Homo sapiens: one gene and its partners. The protein of the gene in region 5 purifies or fractionates together with the protein of the main gene of each other region. This does not show direct contact. Each region holds a gene or a part of one and is shown on either strand. Other genes may lie near its edges. The genes, in order: PPT1, PKN2, NUCB1, LMAN1, LETM2, MORC2 and TMTC3.

The links.
Region 1: the proteins of LETM2 (region 5) and PPT1 purify together in Homo sapiens (affinity purification with mass spectrometry; one large-scale study listed by BioGRID and IntAct). This does not show direct contact.
Region 2: the proteins of LETM2 (region 5) and PKN2 purify together in Homo sapiens (affinity purification with mass spectrometry; one large-scale study listed by BioGRID and IntAct). This does not show direct contact.
Region 3: the proteins of LETM2 (region 5) and NUCB1 purify together in Homo sapiens (affinity purification with mass spectrometry; one large-scale study listed by BioGRID and IntAct). This does not show direct contact.
Region 4: the proteins of LETM2 (region 5) and LMAN1 purify together in Homo sapiens (affinity purification with mass spectrometry; one large-scale study listed by BioGRID and IntAct). This does not show direct contact.
Region 6: the proteins of LETM2 (region 5) and MORC2 purify together in Homo sapiens (affinity purification with mass spectrometry; one large-scale study listed by BioGRID and IntAct). This does not show direct contact.
Region 7: the proteins of LETM2 (region 5) and TMTC3 purify together in Homo sapiens (affinity purification with mass spectrometry; one large-scale study listed by BioGRID and IntAct). This does not show direct contact.

Annotation. Positions count from the first base shown.
Region 1 is NC_000001.11:40,073,253-40,076,752, forward strand, and holds part of PPT1 (palmitoyl-protein thioesterase 1 isoform 1 precursor), read right to left. Parts: intron 932-3,500; coding exon 809-931; 3' UTR 1-808. UniProt on the Homo sapiens protein: Has thioesterase activity against fatty acid thioesters with 14 -18 carbons, including palmitoyl-CoA, S-palmitoyl-N-acetylcysteamine, and palmitoylated proteins. In contrast to PPT2, PPT1 can hydrolyze palmitoylated proteins and palmitoylcysteine.
Region 2 is NC_000001.11:88,771,273-88,774,772, reverse strand, and holds part of PKN2 (serine/threonine-protein kinase N2), read right to left. Parts: intron 3,353-3,500; coding exon 3,207-3,352; intron 3,111-3,206; coding exon 2,894-3,110; intron 1-2,893. UniProt on the Homo sapiens protein: PKC-related serine/threonine-protein kinase and Rho/Rac effector protein that participates in specific signal transduction responses in the cell.
Region 3 is NC_000019.10:48,903,312-48,906,811, reverse strand, and holds part of NUCB1 (nucleobindin-1 precursor), read right to left. Parts: intron 2,466-3,500; coding exon 2,358-2,465; intron 1,060-2,357; coding exon 927-1,059; intron 1-926. UniProt on the Homo sapiens protein: Major calcium-binding protein of the Golgi which may have a role in calcium homeostasis. Acts as a non-receptor guanine nucleotide exchange factor which binds to and activates alpha subunits of guanine nucleotide-binding proteins (G proteins).
Region 4 is NC_000018.10:59,349,266-59,352,765, reverse strand, and holds part of LMAN1 (protein ERGIC-53 precursor), read left to right. Parts: intron 1-3,500. UniProt on the Homo sapiens protein: Mannose-specific lectin. May recognize sugar residues of glycoproteins, glycolipids, or glycosylphosphatidyl inositol anchors and may be involved in the sorting or recycling of proteins, lipids, or both.
Region 5 is NC_000008.11:38,385,248-38,389,275, reverse strand, and holds the start of LETM2 (LETM1 domain-containing protein LETM2, mitochondrial), read right to left. Parts: upstream 2,801-4,028; 5' UTR 2,708-2,800; intron 2,135-2,707; exon of another isoform or gene 1,770-2,134; intron 1,327-1,769; 5' UTR 1,293-1,326; coding exon 1,246-1,292; intron 1-1,245.
Region 6 is NC_000022.11:30,941,275-30,944,774, forward strand, and holds part of MORC2 (ATPase MORC2), read right to left. Parts: intron 998-3,500; coding exon 838-997; intron 729-837; coding exon 617-728; intron 285-616; coding exon 159-284; intron 1-158. UniProt on the Homo sapiens protein: Essential for epigenetic silencing by the HUSH (human silencing hub) complex. Recruited by HUSH to target site in heterochromatin, the ATPase activity and homodimerization are critical for HUSH-mediated silencing.
Region 7 is NC_000012.12:88,166,307-88,169,806, reverse strand, and holds part of TMTC3 (protein O-mannosyl-transferase TMTC3), read right to left. Parts: intron 3,478-3,500; coding exon 3,225-3,477; intron 1-3,224. UniProt on the Homo sapiens protein: Transfers mannosyl residues to the hydroxyl group of serine or threonine residues.

The DNA of each region.
Region 1 (3,500 bases), on a different chromosome or scaffold from region 5:
ACTCTAGCATCAAGACCACTAGTCATATTAAGAAAGGGCAGGTTGGTCGAGAATGGAATAGGAAGAACTAGCTGCCTCACTTTTCACTTTCGCGCCTACATTTTCTTCGCTCCCTAAGTTATACAAGATGTACATTTCCTCTCTTAAGCAACTTAATTTGGGTGCTACTTCCCTCCTTTTGTGACAGCAACTAATTCATCACTACCTGAGGAGACAAAGTGGGTGCTGCAGAAGCAAGACTGTAGGCCAGTGGGATTTGTCTAATAATTGATGATAAGATGATAGCACAGAGGGCAACGTACTGAGAGAGGAAGGCAGCCTTAAGAAATGATGCAGAAATAGCCAAGCAAGATTTTTCCAAGCACTGGTTAAATCACCAGCAAAACAAAGCATTTATGTGAGTACCTCAGGCCTGGGCACCTCTTTGCTTGAAATATGGCAAGACTTGGAAAAATGTTTGCCCTTAGAATCTATCTCACTACTTTAGTTAGTTGTCTCCTTTGGGCCTGGGCACAGTTCTGGCACTGATCTGGAACAGACTCCCTTTTCTAAAACTGAACTTGACCACATCAAAAGTTTGTAAAACAATCTCCATGGTAATTAAACTTGCATTCAACACCATATGGTAACAGAAGATGGCAAAGGATAAGATTCAGATCTTAGATCTTTCCAAGTAGGGCATGTTAGATGATAGAAGGATTAGTTGCAAGCTGGATCTGAGCTCAGGCTTGGGCATGAAGGAAACTGTCTCCCATGTGGTTTGGAAGAGTTAGGGGCTCCCTGAGCTCTATTGTGAACTATACGGGTTTCATCCAAGGAATGGTATGATGTGGGCATAAAACCATTCTTCAGACAACTGAAGATGGTCCCCTTCTGTAGCCAGAAACACTAGCTGTCCTGCATTGTCCATTTCCTTTAGCCCCAGGCGGTCCTGCAGAAGGAAAGGCCATAATTAATTAAAAAGCTTAATGAAGTTTTGGAGTAAAATGGTAAGTACGTTAACTTGAGATATATTTTCAAAATGCAGTTTGTCCTGAGTATTAAAATTGAGGTGTATTTTCAAAAATGCCAAAAAGAATATCTCCTACTTCTTTTTCTTTCTCTTTTTTCTTTTTCTTTCTTTCTCTTTCTTCCTTTCTTTTCTTTCTTCTCTCCTCCCCCTCCTCCTGTCCCCCCCGCTTCTTCTTCTTCTTCCTCTCTCTCTCTCTGTCTCTCTTTCTCTTTCTTTCTTTCAAGACGGAGTCTTGCTCGGTTGCTTAGGCTGGAGTGCAGTGGTGCGATCTCGGCTCACTGCAACCTCCACTTCTCTGGCTCAAGCGATTCTCCTGCCTCTGCCTCATGAGTAGCTGGAATTACAGGCGCATGCCACCATGCCTGGGTAATTTCTTGTATTTTTAGTAGAGATGGGGTTTCACTGTGTTAGCTAGGATGGTCTTGATCTCCTGACCTCAGGTGATCCACGTGCCTCGGCCTCCCAAAGTGCTGGGATTACAGGCGTGAGCCACCACACCCGGCCAGTTTTTTCTAAGTATTAAAAATAGATATGCAATTGAGATTGCTCTATACAGTGTTCTAGATTCTGATTTTTGAAAAGCTCAGAGTCAGAGGACTACCTATAGGTGGGCAAGCCATAGACGACACTGCCTCAGAATGCCATAGGTAAGTGGGACTGAGCCAAAGACAGAACATTAGCTAGGTAACTTAAAAAACATCCAACCCAGGACAGGCGCGGTGGCTCACGCCTATAATCCCAGCACTTTGGATGGCCAAGGCAGGCGGATCACCTGTGGTCAGGAGTTCAAGACCAGCCTGACCAATATGATGACACTTTGTCTCTACTAAAAATACAAAAATTAGCTGGGCATGGTGGCGGGCACCTGTAATCCTAGCTACTTGGGAGGCTGAGACAGGAGAATTCGCTTGAACCCGGGAGGCGGAGGTTGCAGTGAGCTGAGATCATGCCATTGCACTCCAGCCTGGGCAATGAGCAAAACTGTCTCAAAAGAACAAAACAGAAAAACCATATCCAACCGTTAGGTAACAAACCCTGGACACTTTCATATTCTGGAGTTGAAAATGTCATTACCCATAGCCTAGATGCTGGAGAACAACCTCTGGTTGGGAAGATAAGCAGTTACGACAGTGCCAGAATGGTGCTTCTGCCGTGGCCAACATCATTTTGAGTTTTCACAGTAAGGAAGTTCTTAGCTGTAATTTCTCAAGCCTTTTTTTTTTTTTTTCTCAAATCAGATTCTAGCTTCCCTTTTTACCTCACCACCCAAGTTGAGGCACCCAGTGCAAAAGAAAAGCCAAGCCAAGAGGAGACAAATGACCTCTGAAATAACATGGAGGAATTCTAGTAGACGGTGATTGGTTCAGATGTAGTACTTAGCATTTTGGAGAGTCTGTCTCCAATATAAAATCCTTAGGGCTGGGCGTGGTGGCTCACACCTGTAATCCCAGCACTCTTGAAGGCTGAGGCAGGTGGATCACCTGAGGTCAGGAGTTGAAGACCAGCCTGGCCAACATGGTGAAACCCCGTCTCTACTAACAAAACAAAGTATTAGGCATGGTGGCGTGTGCCTGTAATCCCAGCTACTAGTGAGGCTGAGGCAGGATAATCGCTTGAACCCAGGAGGTGGAGGCTGCAGTGAGCTGAGATCACACCATTGCACTCCAGCCTGGGTGACAAAGCAAGACTGTCTCAAAAAAAAAAAAAAAAAAAAAAAAAAAAAAAAATCCTTAAAGTGTAGAAGGCCCCAGAACTGGAGGTGGCAAATTACTGCAACTTCTGCTTAAGATACAGGACCTACTGCTAAACAAAATTCAAAACTCTAGTCCCACTCAACCTCCTGCAGGAGCCTCCCTTGTCAGTGCGTAATTTAGAAACAGGATTTCACATCTATTAATGTTTAAAAGTAATGTCCCTTGGCCAGGCGCACTGGCTCACGCCTGTAATCCCAGCACTTTGGGAGGCTGAGGTGGGTGGATCACCTGAGGTCAGGAGTTCAAGACCAGCCTGGCCAACATGGTGAAACTCCATCTCTCCTAAAAATACAAAAATTAGCCAGGTGTGATGGCACACACCTGTAATCCCAGCTACTAAGGGGGCTGAGGCAGGAGAATTGCTTGAATCTGGGAGGCAGGGGTTGCAGTGAGCCAAGATTGCTCCACTGCACTCCAGCCTGGGTGACAGAGCGAGACCCCGTCTCAAAGAAAAAAAAAGGAATGCCCCTCATCATGCATGGAGGCTTCCTGGATTTGTAGCAGACTGTACCTCAGCCAAGGCAGCTAGTTTTAAAACCTTTTTATCAAAAGAAGGGAATCAGACATGAGGTTTCTCTTGTTGTTTGGAAACCATAAGGTTTCAGGATGTAGTGGATTTTTGTAACCCAGTGCCTAATAAGCTAGAGCACATAATCAAGAGCCTAACAAGCTTCACCCATATTGGACATGAGTCAGGTGTTTCAGGAGTACCTAGTGCTCTGAGGTGTAAAGGA
Region 2 (3,500 bases), on a different chromosome or scaffold from region 5:
CATACCACTGTACTCCAGCCTGGGCAACAAAGAGAGATCCTGTCTCAAAAATAAGTAAATAAAAACAGAGTAGAAAAATTCAATCAAAACCAAAAGAAGGTAGTACTAGAACTCAGAGAAAAAAAGATAAACACTTGCATAAAAAAAAAAACCCGCAAAATGACAGAAATAAGCCCTTTTGTTGTATATAATTTGGCTGGTTTTTGTCCCTGGTTTCTGGAAGACAGCCTCTAAGTCTAAACCTTTGGAATTTCCCCCAGTGATAGGCGTGCCTTTGTTATTCATAGTGGATACCTTAGACCACACCTGGTAAGGTGACTCATGGTGGGCCTCTAGACAGTTTCAGGATGGGGGCTGGCCATGCCAGAAAGAATGATCATATCTTCAGGAGGTTGAGGCTTTGAGCCACATTATCAGTCTGACCTCCTGACCTAGGGAGGGGCACAAGGCTGGAGATTGAATTCAATCATGTGGCCAATGATTCACTCAATCACACCTATGTTAACAAAGCCCCAATGAAAATTCTGCACACCCAATGCTCAAGTGAACTTCCTGGTTGGTGACAGACATTGATGTGTTAGGAGGGTGATATATCCTAAGGACACATAAGGTTTGTGTTTGAGATCCTCTCAGATCTCCCCCTTTATGTTTATTTTCTTTTCGCTGCAGTGAGCCATGAAGGTCCTAATTTGTATCCTTTATAATAAAAACGTAATCCTAAGTATAGTGCTTCCCTGAGTTCTATGATTTGTTCCTGCAAATTACTGAGCTGAGATGCTAGTAGAAATCCTGGAATCTGTAGACAGTTGGTCAGGAGTGCATGTAGCCTTGGAAACTCTAAATTTGCTGCTTGCTTATGAAGTGATGGCAGTTTTGTGGGGGGACTGTGCTACAAACCTATTAAATTTAACCTACCTCTCAGTAGTTACCACCAGGATTATTACATCCTGTCTGTAATTACTTTAAATGTTTCTCTCTCTTTCTTTCTTTCTTAGAGGCGGAGTCTTGCTGTGTCACCCAGGCTGGAGTGCAGTGGTGGAATCATGACTCACTGTAGCCTCAAACTCCTGGGCTCATGCAATTCTCCTGCCTCTGCCTCCCAAGTAGCTGGGACTACAGGTGCATGCAACCTCATCTGGATAACTGTCTTAAACTATTAAATAAACAGCAAACACTGGTCAGATGTGGAGGCACACACCAGTAATCACAGCACTCTGGGAGCCCAAGGCAGGCAGATCACTTGAGGCCAGGAGTTTGAAACCAGTGTGGCCATCATGGTAAAACCCTGTCTCTACTAAAAATACAGAAATTAGCCAGGTGCAGTGGCACATGCAGATCACTTGAGGCCAGGAGTTTGACACCAGTATGGCCATCATGGTGAAACCCTGTCTCTACTAAAGATACAAAAACTAGCCAGGTGCAGTAGCACATGCCTGTAATCCCAGCTACTCGGGAGGCTGAGGCACAAGAATTGCTTGAACCTGGGAGTGGGAGGCTGCAATGAGAGTGAGACTCTGTCTCAATAAAAATGAATTAAAAAAAAAAAAGACTGACAGAATGGATCTTATAAAACAGAATACAATAATATATAATCTAAAAGAGACTCATTTGAACCCAAAGACAAAACCAAAACAAAGTAGGGGTAGCTGTTATAAAATCAGACAAAACAGATTTTAAATTAAATATTGTTATAGGAGACAAAGAAGGACATTATAAAGGAGTTAAGGTAAAGGTAAAGGAGTCAATCCGTCTAGAAGATATAAAAATTGTAAACATACATGAACCTAGCAAAACAGCCCACAATATAGGAAACAAAAATTTACATAACTGAAGGGAGAAATACAGACAGTTCTACAGACATAGTTAGATATATTACCATACTTCCAATAATGGACCTATTAGAACACGATCAAAGAAGAATGAAAAAAAATATTAACTGTTGGTGAGGATCTGGAGATACTGAAACCCACTTTATACATTACTGTTAGAAGTATAAAATAATGTAAATGCTGAGAAGAACAGTTTGACAGTTCCTCAAAATCTTAGATATAGCTACCATATGACCTAGCAATTATATTCCTAGGAATATACCCCCAAATTGAAAACAGATGTTCAAGCAAAAACCTGCACGTAAATGTTCATAGCAGTCTACTCACAACAGTCAAAAGGTAAAAAGAACTCATATGCTCTGACAAATAGGTCAATCAAATATAGTATAGGTTGAGTATTCCTTATCTGAAATCCTTGGGACCAGAAGTATCTCAGATTTTGGAATGTTTATATTATATTATACTTACTGGTTAAGCATCCCTAATCTGGAAATCTGAAATCCCAAATCCAAAATGCTCCAATGAGAATTTCCTTTGAGCATCATGTTGGGTGCACAAAAAGTTTTGAATTTTAGAATATTCCCACAAGTGGAATACTATTCAGACATTAAAAGTGAGTGAAGTACTCATACATACTACAACATGAATGAACCTTGACAACAATATGCTAAGTAAAAGAAGCCAGGCAAAAAAGGTCACAAATTATATAATTTCTATCATATGACAAATCTAGAATAGACAAATCTGTAGAGACAGACAATTAGTAGTTGCTAGCAGCTGGGAGGAAGGGGGAATGGGGAGTGACTGCTTAACAGGTATGCGTTTCCTTTTGGGGTGATGAAAATGCTTTGAAACTAGGTAGTGGTGATGGTCACACAATATTGTGAATATAGCAAATGCTTCCAAATTGAATAAAATTAAAATGGTTAATACAACAAATTTTATTCTATGTGTATCTTATCATAATTTTAAAAATCTATGCACAGGTTTTTCTTTCAATTATTAAATCAGAACCAGTTATAGACAAAAATACACACAAAAAACAATGGCTATACACTACATACCTGTTAGTGCTGCTGGTTTGGATAGTGTACTATATTGATTTTGCGTAGATATCATACTTTGACGTGGACTTAGTGTTGGTGATGCAGCAACAAGTGAAAGTTCTTCAATAATAATCCTGCTTTTGGGATGATTCTTGGGGACTTCGTTTAATCTTTGCTCTAATGAATACTTTAAAAGGTCCAACTTCTGACTTGATTCATTAAATCTTGCTTGAGCCTTGCACAGGGAAAAGACAATTGTTGTCATTTAAATAATCACATACTTTGAATAATGTATTTATTAAACCAAATAAAAATTTTTATTTAAAATTACTTCTGAAAGTGCTTTTCTGTCTGTTACTTTTCCTGAGCCAAGTAATTTCATTACATTCTTTGCACCTTCTGCTACTGCAAACTCTATCCTAAAATGATGCCTTAATTCTTCCATCCGAAGTTCAAGAGGACTTATCACAGGTTTTGCTAGAAAGGAAAAAAAAATTTTAATTGCACCATTTATCTGACTTTCCAATTTGCAGTGATTAAAATCATGAAAAGAAATGAATTCCTATAACATTACAATAACTTAGTCCTTACATCAATAAACACTGAAATAAAAATATTTGATATG
Region 3 (3,500 bases), on a different chromosome or scaffold from region 5:
GAGAAGCCAGGTCAGGGGTGTTTGGGAGTTTTCTGTACTACTCTTACAACTTTTCTAAAAGTTTGAAGTTCTTTCAACTTTTTTTTTTTGAGATGGGATCTTGTTCTGTCGCCCAGGCTGGAGTACAGTGGCGCAGTCATGGCTCACTATAGCCTTGACATCCCAGGCTCAACGATCCTCCCACCTCAGCTTCCTAAGGAGGTGGGACCACAGGCATGCATTACCATGCCCAGCTTATTTTTTAATATTTTTTATAGAGACAGGGGTCTTGCTATGTTGCCCAGGCTGGTTTTGAACTTCTGGGCTCGAGTGATTCTCCTGCCTCAAAAAGTGTTGGAATTGCAGGCGTGAGCCACTGCACCCGGCCTCTACCAGAATTTTAAATGACAATTTTTTTTTTTTTTTTTTGAGTCAGAGTTTCACTCTGTTGTCCAGGCTGGAGTGCAATGGTGCGATCTCGGCTCACTACAACCTCCGCCTCCCGGGTTCAACCAATTCTCCTGCCTTAGCCTCCTGAGCAGCTAGGATTACAGGCGTGCACCACCATGCCCGGCTAATTTAGTATTTTTAGCAGATATGGGGTTTCACCATGTTGGCCAGATAGTCTCCAATTCCCGACCTCAGGTGACCTGCTTGCCTCAGCCTCCCAAAGTACTGGGATTACAGCCGTGGGCCACTGTGCCCAGCCCATGATAAAGATTTTTAAAAACAACAAATGGAAACAGAATATAAACAAACAACATTGTAATGTTAATATTAAATCATGCTGGGAGGAACACTGGGGCAATCTCCCACGCACATTTCAGCACATTTCGCAGCGGGGAGGGAGGCCTCACCTGCCTAGCACACAACCACCTGGAGGCCGGGAGTGAGGCCACCCTTCCCCACCCCTCCCTGCCTGTCCCTCCCGCCCTGCCCCTGCTCACTGGGATCCTGCTCGGCGTCCATCTTGGCCTTGAGCAGCATCCGCAGCCGTGACACCTCCTGTCGCTTGAGCTCATCCAGCTTGGTGCGGACGTGGTGGCTGACAAAGTCCAGCTCTCGGCTCAGCTTCCCGCTCTGACAGGAGAGGAGACCCTGGTCAGCCTGGGGGCCTGCTCTCTGTCTTCTCTGGAAGCTTCTTATAAGCTTTCTCATGCCCCAGTCTTATACTGCCCCTTCCCTGCTTATAGTCCCCCAGCTCCTCAGAGTCTCCAGGAAGGACAGCTCCCAGCCCGTCAGCCTGGCATTCAAGGCCCTGCCCACCTGTGCTGCCCCATCTCCTGTCATTCATCAAGCCACATGTTTAGGGGCCAGGTGCGGTGGGTCACGCCTGTAATCCCAGCACTTTGGGAGGCTGAGGTGGGAGGATCTCAAGATCAGCCTGGGCAACATGGCAAGTCCCTGTCTCTAGAAACAATACAAAATTAGCCGTGCATGGTGGTGAGACCCAGGTCCATGAGAAGGACAGATCCTGATACGAGGGTTCAGTGTCCTACTCAGTGAAATGGGGACAATGATGGTGCTCCTAGAGGCCTGATATGGGAGTTCATGGTGATGTAAGGGACACCAGCACCTCCCTTATTTTGAATTCTTCCTCTGTAGAAGGCACCATAGGAGCATTCTGTTGACGCAGCCCTCCCACAACACTTGCTAAGGAGTGTCACCATGCTCTTCCAAACCCTTTACACATCTTCCTTTGGAAAATCCAAACCCCAAAATCCTTCCCTTGGAAAATCCAAATCCGAACTGTGCAGCAGGTTCTATGATGTCTCCCATTTTACAGGTGGGGAAACTGAGGCACGGTGAGGGGAGGCCCCATAGCTGGTAAGCGGCGGAGCTGCGACTGAAAGCCTGCCCACGGGACTCTGCACTAAACACGTATTCTGTGTTCCCCAAAGCTCTTCCCAGCTTGTGACCCCAAGAAGCAACTTCTCCCTGAGTCTTACTTTGGTGATTTTCAAATACAGGCACAGCTGGAGCCATGTGGCCCCTTTGAAGAAACCAGTATGGTCAGGCATGGTGGCTCATGCCTGTAATCCCAACACTTTGGGAAGCCGAGATGGGAGGATCACGAGGTCAGGAGTTCGAGACCAGCCTGGCCAACATGGTGAAACCCCGTCTCTACTAAAAATACAAAAATTAGTCAGGCATGGTGGTGTACGCCTGTAATCCCAGCTACTTGGGAGGTTGAGGCAGGAGAACTGCTTGAACCTGCGGGGTGGAGGTGCAGTGAGCTGAGATCGCACCATCGCACTCCAGCCTGGGTGACAGAGCAAGACTCCGTCTCAAAAAAAAAAAAAAAGAAACCAGTCCTCCCCTGAACTCTGCCCTCCCAGCACGTACCCCTCCCACAGCCCCCACTCCCCCAGCCGCACCTTGATGTCCTCCGCATTGGCAGCCTGCAGCTTCTCTCGGAAATGCCCATCCGTCTCCAGTACATCGATGACCTCCTGGAGGTACCGGTGGTAGTACAGGCCTGTGTCCTGAGGCAACAAGGACAGACATAGCAGCCCCTGCTCCCATCCCCATCCCCACCCTCACTCCTGTTACTGCTATGGCCTGCTCCCTGGGGCAGCTGACAAGGGACTCAGTTTTTACCTTTTCCCACATATGCAGCAAAGATGAAATGAAAATCACATCAGTGAACACCCAGCCCAATACTGCCCAGAGTGGGTGCTCAGAGTGGACATGACTTGTTGGGAAGCTGTGAATCATACTTTTATCCATCCATCCAACCATCCATCCATCCATGCATCCACCCATTCATCCATGCATCCACCCACCCATCCATCCATACATCCCACCCACCCATCCATACATACATCCTACCCACCCATCTATCCACCCATCATCCATCCATCCATCCACCCATCCATCCACTCATCCATCCATCCACCCACCCACCCATCCATCCATCCATCCACCCATCCATCCATCCACCCACCCATCCATCCATCCATCCATCCATCCACTCATCCATCCATCCATCCACTCATCCACCTGCCCATCCATCCACCCACCTATCCATCCATCCATCCATCTATCCATCCATCCATCCACTCATCCACCCACCCATCCATCCACCCGCCCATCCATCCACTCATCCATCCATCCACCCACCCATCCATCCATCCACCCACCCATCCATCCATCCACTCATCCACCCACCCATCCATCCACCCGCCCATCCATCCAACCACCCGTCCATCCATCCATCCACTCATCCACCCACCCATCCATCCACCCGCCCATCCATCCACTCATCCATCCATCCACCCACCCATCGATCCATCCACCCACCCATCCATCCATCCACTCATCCACCCACCCATCCATCCACCCGCCCATCCATCCACCCGCCCATCCATCCAACCACCCATCCATCCATCCATCCACTCATCCACCCACCCATCCATCCACCCGCCCATCCATCCAACTGCCCATCCATCTACCCACCCGCCCATGCATGCATTCATTCATTCAACAAACATTCACCAGGCCCCTATCATATGCCAGGC
Region 4 (3,500 bases), on a different chromosome or scaffold from region 5:
AAGCGGTCCTGTGGTTAGAATCCTGTAACTGCCAGGTGGAGGTGGGGAAGGGCAGGAACATTTTCTCAGAGTTGAGCTGTGCCCTACAGGGAGATCAGGAAGTTCCTGGGAGTTGGGGGAAGAGGGTGTGTGTGTGTGCGAGTGAGTGGGTGTACTCCAAGCACAGAAAGCAGGCATAGGCCCTTGAGAGAGCTTGAAATATTTTGGAAAGGCATGTAGTTTGGTGTGGCTGGGAGATAGAAGAGATCAGTGAGCAGTGAGGTTGAAAGGGCAGTAACAGGCCTTGCACAGCTTCCTGTAGTTTAACCCATAAGAAGCTTTTAAAAATGTTTAAAGGGTTTTAAGCAGGAAGTGAAATTATCAGATTTGCAATTTAGAAAGATGACTTAGGTCCCAGTATTCTTAGTACCAGTTTTCTTGGGGTTAGGGGTGAACACAGTTGTTGAGTCAAGGAGAGTTCCTGAATATAGCCAATTGGACAGCTAATTGGTACTATTTACTAGCAAAGAAGCAGCACATTTGTTTGTGTTTTATCTGTTTGGGGGAGGAATGGGAAATCAGAGGGTTGGTAATGAGTTTAGTTGTAGGTAAATTGAGGTTAGCATAACATATAGGTGGAGATATCTAACTGGCAGTTATGATAACTAAGATCACTATGCATTGTAAACTTTGCTTTTTAAAGATGCCATTAATACCTGGTTATATAATACTTAAAAGTAAAAAAAATAGTGTATGAATTTTTCTTTCACCTAAATCATGAGCTAGACTTACACTCCTGGGTCTAAATCTCTGAGAAAGTTAGTTCTGTGGAAAACTGTATTGGCTTAGTCTTAATTCCAAGCTAATTTAGAGATCTTAGAATAGAGCAAGTGTCCAATGTATTATAATTAGCTTGGGTTTGAATTCCACTATAATTATTCACCCTGTACAGTTTCATTAGAGTCATCAGTAAGTCTTGCTTACCTGCATGTAGCAAAGCCCAGACATCAAGCATGGTGGGTGCAGACTGTCCGTGTGACCCAACACCGTGAGGCTGTGAGCCCTGGCAGCACTCCAAAACAATAGCCTTGCAAAACGTACTCCCCAGAAAGGGTTCCACAATTGATGAGATTGGTCACTACTCTGCATATTAGCACATTAAAGATTTCTTTATGAAGGATCCTTTATAAAGAAAGGATAAATAAACCTTTATTAGACCTCACATTTCCCAGACTGACTTAACTATGGAATTTTTTTTCACCTAATGTCTATGAGTGATCATGGAGCTAGTGTTTTCAGGTACACGTTTTGAAGAGACTGGCTGGACACGTGACTGCTACTTATTGGTTTTCACCTCTCTGTACATCTCAGTCTGGTAATAATTCCTTTTCTTTCTACTTGTTAAAGTCATACTTAGCTTTGAGCACACAAATTCAGATCCCTTTTCTATCAGATTTCCTAAACAGCTCATAATGATCTGTCTCTCCTAAACTCTTAGAGTATTTTTTTTTCTCTAATGCTTATTTGGCCTTGAGATATGTTGTACTGATTTGCTTATTAACTATATGTATATCTCTTCTTATCAATATGATTGTAAACTTCTCACAATAGGCATATCCTGTATTTCTCCTAGTTCCTAATATTGTGCCAATGTGAAGTGCTCAAGAAGTATTTATTTTCATGAGTACTTGCACCCTAGCTTGTCCCAGTTGTTTCCACATTGGAGGGAAAAACAAAGTAAGAGGAGGTTGAAAGCAATAAGTGCTGTTGGTGGGGGAAACACAGCCAAAGCAAGAGATCTTAAATATTGCAAGTGTAGTCTTTAACAATGGTTTGAAACCATAAGGTGAATAAGGAAGGTTATTGATGATCTCATAAAGAAGTAATAATCAGTGGACAGTTTGTACCTAGGCTTTCAGTTACAGTCCTTCCTAACATTCCTGCTAACTCACAGTACAATGAAATGTGTTACGTCCTTTAAAAAAAAATTGGGGCCGGGCGCGGTGGCTCACACATGTAATCCTAGCACTTTAGGAGGCCGAGGCGGGCGGATCACGAGGTCAGGAGATCAAGACCATCCTGGCTCACACGGTGAAACCCCGCCTCTACTAAAAATACAAAAAAATTAGCCAGGCTTTGTGGCGGGAGCCTGTAGTCTCCGCTACTCGGGAGGCTGAGGCAGGAGAATGGCGTGAACCCTGGAGGCAGAGTTTGCAGTGAGCCGAGATCACACCACTGCACTCCAGCCTGGGCGACAGAGCGAGACCCTGTCTCAAAAAATAAATAAATAAATAAAAATAATTGGAACTAGACAATGAAGACTCATGCTGGATTTTCAGTTTGTTAGAATTCAAGGAAAAAAATACTGAACAATTGGAGGATTTTAGTATTGTAATTTGAATGTAATAATCTACAGTCTTTTTAAGACTCAAAGGCAAATAACTTCCTGATTGTTGATTCTAATTTAAAAGGCTCTGTGGAGGAGGACCAGTTGTAAATGATGTAAAATGAAATAGGAATATTACTAATCACAGGAAACATATTAATATGAACCAAATGCTAAATGATCTTTTAAAATTAATTATTTTAAACTAATTTTTAGTTCACATGTTTCCATTCTACAGTATATAGAGAGTAACTCTTCATATTGACAGATTTTATTCTCTTGCTGAAAATTTGGACAGAATACCAGAACATTTTGCCTGTGTGACTGAATCTTAAGTCTCTGACAAAATTTTGACTCTAGAAGTAATGACTCAAGTTCCCTTACTCTGGTGCCTTGGGCCTTCTCCTGCAACCACCCTGAACCTCAGTGACTGTTGTTTAGGGTGGGACTCGTGAGAGGATTATTAGAAATGAAATGTATTGAAGAGGCTGAACCACTGCTTGACTGGGATAATGAGAAAAGCATTCATGTGTCAGGTGGATTCCTGTGCTTGCCTAGGATTCTAAGATTCTGTTAAGAAATTTAGGATCATTCCTTCAAATATACATTTTGCAAAGTAGAAACGTACATCTTTTTAGTTTTTTCCTTCTCTGCCTTGTCAGTATGACTTCTGTCACTTTTGTTCTCTGCTAACCTGTGACAGTCCAGATACCTCACTAATTTAATTAAGAGGAGCTCACTACTTGTTGAGACAATCTGTTTAATTCTCAACCAGCTGCAGATAAAATTGTAAATTTAACCTCTTGGTTTTAGCTGTCACTGGGATCTGAGAACAAGTCTGATCCCTCTGCTGCATGAACCATTCCAAGGGAGTAATGATGACTCCCTAGGTCTTCTTGAGAGAAGGCAAACCATATTCCATTTTAGAAAGGTTTTCATAGAAAGTTATCAGATTTTTCTCTCTTTAAACTTTTGACACATAGTGGGGCAAAACTCATTTTTTTAAGTAAAATATATTGTATATTGACACCAAGTAGGAAACGTTATTTAAAATTACTCTTTATAATAATGAAACAAAACTGAATAGTAGTCATAAAATGGATCGATTGAAATTTATTTTCTAATGTCTTTTGCA
Region 5 (4,028 bases):
CATTGCACTCCAGCTTGGGCAATAGAGCGAGATTTCATCTCAAAAATAAATAAATAAATAAATAAATAAATAATGGTAACAGACCCTAATGGGACACGAATATGCCCTAAGACTGGCTGTTCATCAGCCATTTTACTCGCTTTACATCTAAGGACCTCACGTGATGTTCATCAATTACAGAGATGTCACTCTAAAACCAGTACATCTTCTGGCTGGGCACAGTGGCTCACGCCTTTAATCCCAGCACTTTGGGAAGCCCAGGCTGGCGGATTACCTGAGGTCAGGAGTTCAAGACCAGCCTGGCCAACATGGCGAAACCCCATCTGTACTAAAAATACAAAAATTAGTGGGACATGGCGGCGCATGCCTGTAATCCCAGCTACTTGTGAGGCTGAGGCAGGAAAATCTCTTGAACCTGGGAGTTGGAGGTTGCAGTGAGCCAAGATATCATGCCACTGCACTCCAGCCTGGGCAACAGAGTGATAATCCGTCCCAAAAAAGAAAACAAAAACAAACAAACAAAAAAAACTACATCTTCTTTTCTTTTTTTTTTTTGAGATGGATTTTTACTCTTGTTGCCCAAGCTGGAGTGCAGTGGCCCAGTCTTGGCCCACTGCAACCTCCGCCTCCCAGGTTCAAGCGATTCTCCTGTCTCAGCCTCACAAGTGCTGGGATTATAGGTACCTGCCACCATGCCGGCTAATTTTTGCAGTTTTAGTAGAGACGGGGTTTCACCATGTTGGTCAGGCTGGTCTTGAACTCCTGACCTCAGGCAATCCGCTCGCCTTGGCCTCCCAAAGTGCTGGGATTACAGGTGTGAGCCACTGCACCCAGCCTCCAAGAAACTTTTAATTGTGTACTAAGCCAATCCTTTCCATCTAGAAGGATGAAATTCAGGCCAGGCGAGGTGACTCACGCCTGTAATCCCAGCACTTTGGGAGCCCAAGGCAGGCGGATCACCTAAGGTCAGGAGTTCCAGAGCAGCCTGGCCAACATGGTGAAACCTCGTCTCTACTGAAAATACAAAGATTAGCCGGAGGTGGTGGCAAACACCTGTAATCCCAGTTACTTGGAGGCTGAGGGAGGAGAGTAGCTTGAACCCGGGAGGCAGAGGTTGCAGTGAGCCGAGATTGCACCATTGAACTCCAGCCTGGGCGACAGAGTGCGACTCCATCTCAGAAAAAAAAAAAAAAAAGAAGAAGAAGAAGAATTACGTTCATATTGGGGGGTAACTCCAATGCTTACCTTGTTCGAGCAATAGCCAGAACTGAATTATAACTGTAGAAGGCCATATTTATTTTTGTCTCAAGTAGTTAACATAGGGACCTAGGCAAAAGGAGTAAGTAAACAATTTAGTAGTTTAAAAATACATCAATTAAAAGACATCAGGATTTTAGTGTTTTTAACTATTGCAAAGGTAGAACATTTGCATAGTTAAGGTACAAAACCTCCTTCAAGCTCATTTCCAACAATCAGATATTTTCGTAGCTCTGGACTTGAGAATGGTACTTTGAGATTCCAACAAACGGTAATGATCTCTAAGATGATGATGCTCATGAAGATGGTACAATCTTCAGAGACATTTTGATTTCTGGTCAATAGTATCTAGTAATGCAACTTCAATGATTGCCAAGTACTTAAAAGTAGAGCAATACATATCTATCTGTAGCCTTAAAATATAGGTAGAAAGTGAATATTCTGAATTTCTTTTCAGTTAGCATTGTTCTATATTTAGGCAAGTTGTCCCAAACCCTGAATATTGGACGTACCCACTAATCTAATTTATGTAGCAGTGGATGAAGGTAGACATGCAACCTACTAATCGCTCAAGTGGAGGTAAAACTGTTTCCCTTGCTACTGATTCTCCAGAGCCCAAACTGAGCTTTGAACCTGTAAATAACCTTCACCAAAACCCATCTCCATCCAGGGGCGCTTTTCTGCTAAGGGCCGCGAGGAACGGCAGAAGAGCTGACATTCCCAATGGCAGCTTTGCTCTCTTGTGGTTGGGAAAAGAGTTCCAGGAGCTCTCCTGAATAGAAACCTTAGCCACAGAGCTGACATTTTCAACAGGGGCTCGAAACCTGTGGACCCACACTAACGGTGGGTGGTGTTTCGCGGGCAGGAGACGACACCTGAGGCGGCGGTTAATCCGCTCGGGCCCGGGCGCTCCCGGGCGGCGGACACCACTCGCACTCGCATTGGCGCCGCCCCACGCCCGCTGCTCCCGGGCTCCCTCGGCTTTGCCCATCACCACACGGGAGCAAAACGCGCCCTCGGCTTCCTCGCCCGGCGGCTTCGGCGCGCCTGATGTGTGCGCGGCCTGCATGCGGCGGGGTCTGGGGGATATGCTTTGGTTTTCTGGTGCGGAGGTGGGACAGGCACGGGAACGACGACCCTCGTGGATGATCGGGGTTGTTGGAAATGAAGCCGAGGAGAAAGAAGCAGGGCCTGGGACGGAAAAAAGGACGGAGCGCGCTGTGCGGGGAAGGGGGAGGAGAGGCCGAGCTTCAGAGTTCGCGCTGTGCTGGGGAACTGGCGGGGATGAGGTCGTGGGTGGAGGAGAGCGCGGTGGGAACTGGAAGCTGTCAGAAGCCTGGATCATGCTCTGATGAGAGGAGCAGGATGCGGACCGAGCGGGATCCGGAGGAAAAAAAGGCAGCGCGGCCCACCAGGTCGCGGCCTGAGGGCTGGGCCTGCCCACCCCTACCTCCTCGGCCGGGCTCCGCGGAACGGCCGCCTAGGTCCTCCCAGCTCCTTCCCGGGACCCCCAAGCTAGAAGGGCCCGAAGCCAAGTCTCTACGGTTCCGCCTCTTTCCTCGCCCCTGACGTCACTCTGAGTGACGACATCGCCAACCAATAAGCTCTCAAGTTCTGGGGAGGGCGGGCGTCCTTCACCTTAGCAGCCCAGGAAGCCGCAAAGTCGCGTTTACATCGCCGAAGTGACTTCTTTGTGGGGCTTGGTTTAAGGCGCGTTGGTGCTGGGGGGCCCGAAGGTGACGTTTTTCTGCCAGTCCACACTCCGCAGGCAGTGGCTAACGCCCGAGGAAACCCGTGATTGAAGACTGGATTAAACAGGCTCTTTCCCTGACAGCTTAATATGTCTGATAGTCGCCATGGTAACCATTTCGGAGTCATGAATGACATCACTTTGATGTATTCTCCCTCGGACCCTGCAAATCCGGAACTGCCAGAGGGGCGCTGAGAGGATTTGATGGTGTCGCAGAAAGGGCGGGAATCGGAAGGAGCGCATTCCTCTCCCTTCCTCTCCAGAGGCTGGAATACTGTGAAATCTTCATATGGAAATCTGTATTCTACTAAAAATATTTGCTTTCTCAATGGTCCCTTAACAAGTGTTGTTTGTGATTAATAATTTGTATAGAAATCTCAGCATATAAAATGTATGTTATAGTAGCTGTGAAATGACAGACACTGCAGGTTTGAGGGCACTTCAGTTCCTAGGATGGCCAACTGAGCCATCTTGGGAAAATGAAACATCTAGAAATATTCTCATTCCCCAGTTATCTTTTCCCATCCATTTTATCTGGCTCCAGAAGAAAGAGTTAAAAATTTTTTTTATTTAGGCTGGGCGCGGTGGCTCACGCCTGTGATCCCAGCACTTTGGGAGGCCGAGGCGGGCGGATCACAAGGTCAGGAGACAGAAAACATCTTGGCCAACATGGTGAAACCCTGTCTCTACTAAAAAAAAATACAAAAATTAGCCGGGCATGGTGGCGTGCGCCTGTAGTTCCGGCTACTCTGGAGGCTGAGGCAGGAGAATCGCTTGAACCCGGGAGGCAGGGGTTGCAGTGAGTCGAGATCGCGCCACTGCACTCCAGCCTGGGCGACAAGAGCGAGATTCCACCTCAAAAAAAAATTTTTTTTTTCTTAGTGGCTCTACTCGACCACCATACAGCAAGGAATCGCTTTCTCACGGAGAATACGTCTCCTGACATGTGAGCTGACCACAGACTTTACTCATCTGGGCTACACATTTTTAAGAATGGAAGATGGCGGTATTAAACGTCAGT
Region 6 (3,500 bases), on a different chromosome or scaffold from region 5:
GAACTGACCCTGTGACCAATCACAGGCAACTTAAAGTCCCAAACGTAGTCAGCACTGCCAGAGCCTCTTATACAGCATCCCTCTAACAATGCCCCAGAGAAACGCGGCCACATCCTCGACCCATGGGAGACAGCAGGCCAAGGGGCACTGGCCCCTACCTGGGCTTGTACAGGCAGCAGGAGAGCCTCTTGGTCTGCACCTTGTGCCCATGGATGAAGATCCTCATCCGGGGATCAATATAGAGCACAGCGGCATAGGCACGGAACGAGCGCCGCTCTGGCTTCCTGGAGAGGGCAAAAACAGAGAAGTGCTGTCACCTGCTCCACAACAGGCCTGACCAAGGGCACAACATCCTCTCTGCAGGCTCTCCACCTTTCCATGTTAGGTACTGACTTCTGCTGCTGCCCTGAACTGGTGCTCCCTTAGTGTGAGCACCACATCCCGCCCCTCTCACGTCCTCAGCACAGGCACCCCACAGGCAACTGAGCTGGCCCTACATACTACCCTACCACAGAACACTGGGCAATGAATGTGCTCTCCCCTCTTTCCCTGAAGCCATCTCCTGAGAGCACAAACGCCAGTTCCAGGGCCTCCCTCCCTTCCCAGCCACACTCACGTGCCCTCTGGGGACGTCTCTGCCATCTGGATATCTCTTGGATTTGAGATTATGTCTAGTTCTGGCTCTCCATTATCCATGAGTTTGAGATTGAAGATGATCACCAATGTTCCTGAGAAACAGAAATCTTTTGTCCTGCCAGATCCCCCGGCCCACCCCCACACTACTTGTGATTCTGGAGCTCCCAGATTCTAGGGGCTACAGGCTCAAAGCCTACTTACCGCTGTCCCCAGGAATCTTCATAAACTGGGTCATCACTTCCTCCTCAGTGCGGAATGGAGAGTACTTATAGATGAGTTCTGTCTCAATGGCAAATTTCTCTACATTGTCTGTGACAGGTTCCCGGGTCCGAGCATTCCAGGTGGGCAGTGGGACTATCACCTGTGGAGTAAACATGAGCAGGCACTTTAAGGGAAGCCCCAGAACAGCCTTCCTCCCAAATGTGCATCTCTCTTGTCCCTCCCCACAGCAGCTCCACACTGCCCTGTAGGTGAGGCCCAAGCTCCACAGCCTGGCACCAGAGGCTCTGTGAGCTTCAGGGCTTCTGCCTCTTCCCAAGACTCAGCCACACAAGACTACTTCCTTCAGGAGATGTTGGTTTATGTGCTTAGGGTCTCTGCATGAGAAGTTCCCTGCTTGGGACGTCCCTGGTCATTTTCTTAATTTGGTAAAAATTCTACTCTTACCACTAGGGAAAATATATTTGCAATTATCTAGTGAATCAGTAAATACACATAACATAACCTAAAACTCAGCAATTCCACTCCTAGGTACATACCCTAGGAGAAACTTTTGTACATATGTACCAGTAAACATGTACAAAAATAACCCAGGCCTGGTGCAGTGGCTCATGTCTGTAATCCCAGCACTTTGGGAGGCTGAGGTGGATGGACTGCCTGAGCTCAGGAGTTTGAGACCAGTCTGGGCAACATGGTGAATCCCGGTCTCCACTAAAATACAAAAAATTAGCCGGGCGTGGCAGCGTGCGTCTGTAGCCCCAGCTACTCAGGAGGCTGAGACAGGAGAATTGCTTGAATCTGGGAGGCGGAGGTTGCAGTGAGCTGAGATCGTGCCACTGCACTCCAGCCTGGGCAACAGAGCAAGACTCCATCTCAAAAATAAATAAATAAATAAAAATAACCCAAATATCCATTCTAGAGTGGCCAAATTAAACTGTACAATGGAACACTATATAGTGATACAAATGAACTAACCACTACTAGCATCAACATGGATGAACAACATAAACACAGTGTTATATGAAATAGGATACAAAAAATACCTACAGTAAGAGTCCATTTCTAAAAAATTCACAAATAGGCAAAACTAAACTATTATTTAAAAATGCATACAAGGGTGACAAACTATAGTGAAAAAGAAGGAAATCATTATCACAAAAGTTACCTGAAGGCAGTTCCTTCGGGGGCACAAGAAGAAATATGACTGATGAGGGCACACAGGACACTTCTAACATCAGTCTGTGATGGTGGCAACACAGGTGTTGCCTTTAAAATTGTCCTCTGAACTGCATAAATATTTCAATACACTCTTCCATTTATGTGAAATTTAATTTAAATAATGTCTAAGTGATGTTTTAAAAAAATCCTACTCTTTCTTCAAAAACCCAACCTCATATGCCACTTCCCCAGAGGCTCCTCCCTCGGTGGTTATGAGGCCGCAGCCCTTGCAGAGCCCTGCAGATGGCTGCCTGAAGGATTTCCTCTGCAGAGCAGGCCAGGCTAAGCACCTCAGGGGTTCAAACCCTTAGGAAAAAGGGACTCTGTAATCTTAACAAGTGCTGGGGTGACAAACTGTTAAGAGTTCTGAGACATTTTGCTGGGTTTTTTTATTTTATTTTTTTTGAGACGGAGTCTTGCTCTTGTTGCCCAGGCTGGAGTGCGATGGCATGATCTCAGCTCAATGCAACCTCCACCAATGGCACGATCTCGGCTCACTGCAACCTCCGCCTCCTGGGTTCAAGTGATTCTCCTGCCTCAGCCTCTCAAGTAGCTGGGACTAGGCGTACACTGCCATGCCCAGCTAATTTTTCTATTTTTAGTAGAGACGGGGTTTCACCATATTGGTCAGGATGGTCTTGACCACATGATCTGCCCGCCTCAGCCTCCCAAAGTGCTGGGATTATAGGCGTGAGCCACCAGGCCCGGCCCATTTTGCTGGTTTCTAAGAAGCTTTGTGCTGCAACTATTCAACCCAAGGGCTGGTCTGGACACATTCCTCCTCAACTGAAAATGATCTTATTTTGAAATCTTGGCTGAGTTTGCACTAGAGTACAATCCAAAATAGCGACCTTCTAGCACCAAGTAAGGAAAAAATCTCAACCTAGCCTCTCCACCACGGGAACCGAGTTCCATTTGTGTTCTATAAACCTGTACCTCACTACGCCTCCCATTCTTCACAGCCATCCCAGGTGACAATGGCATCACTTTAAACATTGGCTTTCACTCCCATGGGCACCCCATCCCTCCCCTCAGGAACACTTCTCCTTTAGTTCAATGGTACACTTGCCCAGTTTTCTTCCTACCTTTCTGGCTACCCCTTTGTCCCTCTGGCCCCCTTCTCCTCTCCCCGACCTTTAGATATTGACATGCTCTAGGTCCCAGATCCTCTTCTCACTCTATTCTCTCCATTAGGTGACCTCGTTTGCTACCAAGAATGCTGAAGCCCCCAGACTTCCCCCAAATGCCAGACCCAGACTGCACTTTGCATGTCCAGAAGAAACTTACACTCTTCCCCTCCATACTTCCCCTCTTCATTCTTCCCAATTCCAGAGACCCCACTCCCCAACTGCCACAGCAGAACCTATGAGTCATCCATGACTCCCCTGCTTCGCTTTCGCCTTCTACTAATCAATCAATCACCAAAT
Region 7 (3,500 bases), on a different chromosome or scaffold from region 5:
CTACCATGCCTGGCTAATTTAAAAATTTTTTTTAGAGGTGGGATCTCACTGTCTTGCCCAGGTTTGTCCCAAACTCCTGGCCTCCAGTGATCTTCCCATTTCTGCCTCCCAAGGCACTGGGATTACAGGCATGAGCGATTGAACCCAGTTAGTTCTTTACAAATAAAATGGGGATTAATAACAACTTACATTATGCTGTTGACATATATATGACATCTTATCTAATAAGTGCTTAACATGGTATCTGGTAGGTGCTCCTTTGTTCTACTTATCCCTTCCAGAGATCTTCAGAAAACATCACCATAAAAAAAATAGCACCTTTATTAGGACTATACTGAAAATAGAGTTATGCTTAAGGCCACAGCTGTTCCATTTTTATATACATTTAAAATTCAGCTTACATTACATACACCATTATTTTATTTGCTGAAACCTTAATTCCCCTACCTCTCCTTTTTTTTTAACCTTTCTTTTAGGAAAACTCCAGCTTTAGATGTATTCTACCGTTTATTTCTTTTGTCTGTATTTACCAGAGTGGCAACGCACTGCTAGAGAAAGTCCCAAAGCTGAACAGATTAATACTGTCATAAAAGCATGAGCACCAAGTTCAAATTTATCCTTAAGACTGTTTGGGATTTCTAGGTTTCTCTGGAAAGTTCCTTCCACTCTTCTTGACTGCTTTGAATCTTCACTACTTTTCTCAAATTTTTGACCCATGTCAGTTTTAGCAGGCAACTACATTTCCTAATTTACAATGAAAGCTGAAGCCATAAAACAAGAATTTCTTTAATTTCCTGCTACTAAACCTACCAACATCCACATTCATTTCTTCTTGTAACATAAGGGGTGTCTCTTCTATCTCAGGCCAAACCTGTGCTCCCTATCTCCTGCTCCTCATAAACTTCACTAACAATTATCCCTTCTCTAATTTATTAACCACTTTCTAATCAACTGTATTCTTCCTATCTATATTTAAACATGCTCTTGTCTCTCCAGCCTTAAACATCTTTAACAATACATTTTTTAAGCTACCTTCCCTATTCGTTACATACCTCAGGTACAAAACAAGTTCTCATGATCTTAGGAAAAGATTTTGTTGCCATAGTATCAAGTAGCCCACTTAACTAATCAACTTAAGTCTACCACTTAACCAATCAACATTTCAGCTTAATAAATATGTTCCTGCAAGCCAACCCATCAGGGATATCCGCATTCAAAAAAGTCAGCTGAGTAGCTGAGTACGCCAATAAAAATGCTTCTATATGCCAACCAATCAACAGTCTCTCCCTGACATTGCTCCCTCCTACCTCTGAAGGTCTACCAATGCCAGATCTCAATGCTTCCCCAGGCCCTACATAAGATAAGCAGTTTGTTATACTTGAAACCATTGCCTGACCAGCATAGTCTTCCCTTAGGGAGGAATTAATCAAGTTTATCCCATCCTTTGAAACAGTCAAAGTTAAATTATTCCTACAGGTCTATACTAGCTCTCTTCACTTCCTCATCAAATCACTCACTGCACATAAACAAATTTCATTTAAGTACCTACAGACTAAAAGAAGTCCAATCCAACAGATTCTAGATCTCACTTTCCCCCTCAAGAGCATCTGTTAGTGTTAACCATTTGGTCTGTAATACACTTTCCTACTTTTCTCTTCATTCGATATGTCTTCTATTCAGGATCCTTCTCTTCAACATCTAAATATAGGAGTTTCTCAAGACCTAGTAGTAGGTATCTTCTCTTTTCACTGTATTTAGCCCACTCAACTGTTTTCTGGGGAGAATTAAGACCAAATACCCTAAGGCTTCCATTATGAGTATGAGTGAACTTCTGTGCATCTAGAATGTTAACAGCTACCATCTTTGACAGAATTGACAAAACCCCAGTTGAGAAAGGCTGCTCTATAACCTCATCTACATTTCACCTTATCTACATCCTGGTTTCAATTACCACCTCTATGTTAATGGATAAGATTTCTATGTGTAACTTAACTATCTTCTATGAACTCCAGACATAAAGTGCTGTTCAAAATGTCCAACAGGATGTTTCAACAGTAATGCAAACTCAACATGTTCAAGGATAATAGACAACACAATCTTTAAATCTACTCTGTATCTCAGACATCCAAATTTCTCTAGAATGTAAGTTCTCTGGAAACGTGAACTGTGTAAGTTCTCTGGAAACGTGAACTGTGTATTTACTATCATAACCTCAGCACCTAAAATGCTGCACTGTACAAAGGGTAAAGTCTAAGTTTTTATTGAATGAATAAATCAATCTAGCAGCTACAGCAAAAAATTATGTATCTGCAATTCATTAAACATACTTTCTGACATATAATAAATGCCTGAGAAAATGTACTATTGTCTTCAATAAACTTTTATTTTTATTTTTGTTTTTTTGAGAAAGAGTATTGCTCTGTCGCCCAGACTAGAGTGCAGTGGCGCAATCTCAGCTCACTGCAAATTCCACCTCCCTGGTTCAAGTGATTCTTGTGCCTCCGCCTCCTGAGTGGCTGGGATTACAGGCACCCACTACCACACCCAGCTACCCAGCTAATTTTTGTATTTTTAGTAGAGACGAGAGTTTCACCAGGTTGACCAGGCTGGTCTCAAACTCCTGGCCTCAAATGATCCACCTGCCTTGGCCTCTCAAAGTGCTGGGATTACAGGCAAGAACCAACGCACCCAGCCTGTCTTCAATAATTAAAAGGGAGAGAAAACATAACTCTTATGAGTATGAAGTGACACAGGGTAAGAAAATAAGAAGAAAAACAGTACAGAAAAACCACCACCAAAAAAAAAAAAAAAAAACTGTTCAAATAATCAGAGTTCTCCGAACATAGTGAAAGCTATCTAAGGGAGTAATAAAAACCACCTTGCTCATGAGAACTGAAAAGCTCTATATTTCTAGTTGTATATCTTATATGATGTTCTTCTCTGTGCCAAGAAAACAAATAATATACAATATAATCAATTTCTTCAAAAAGTGTATAATCTAGTTGGATAAAGGTAACAAATATTTTATGTGCTGAACATATGTCAAATTATGCCTGCAAATTAACTGAGAATTTTGGGATAAACTCAAATACGTTTATAAATTGGGATGCCGTTGAACAAAGAAAGGAGTGCTTCTAAAAAGATGCTTTTGCTGAATTAAAGGTAGTTTCTTACTTATTCAACTGAATGTTAACATCATTTGGAAGTTAAGAAAAGTTTCTTACCATTAAAACAGTCTTGGAGGAATCACCAGAGTATCTGATACTGAATACTCCCAACATCCCCAGAAAACAAAAGAAAGTAAATGTGGCCAGATTTCGAATATCTAGTAATGACTCTATAAGTGGTATTGTTCCCATGGTCCAATCACAGCAGAGCTCTGAAGGATTTAATAACAACCAAGCATTCACAGGAAGGAGGTAGTTAAAAGTTAGTTGCCTTGTAGGAGTTGGGCTTACAGCAGCTGGGTTATCAAACCTGTATAAAGGATTAAAAAAAAG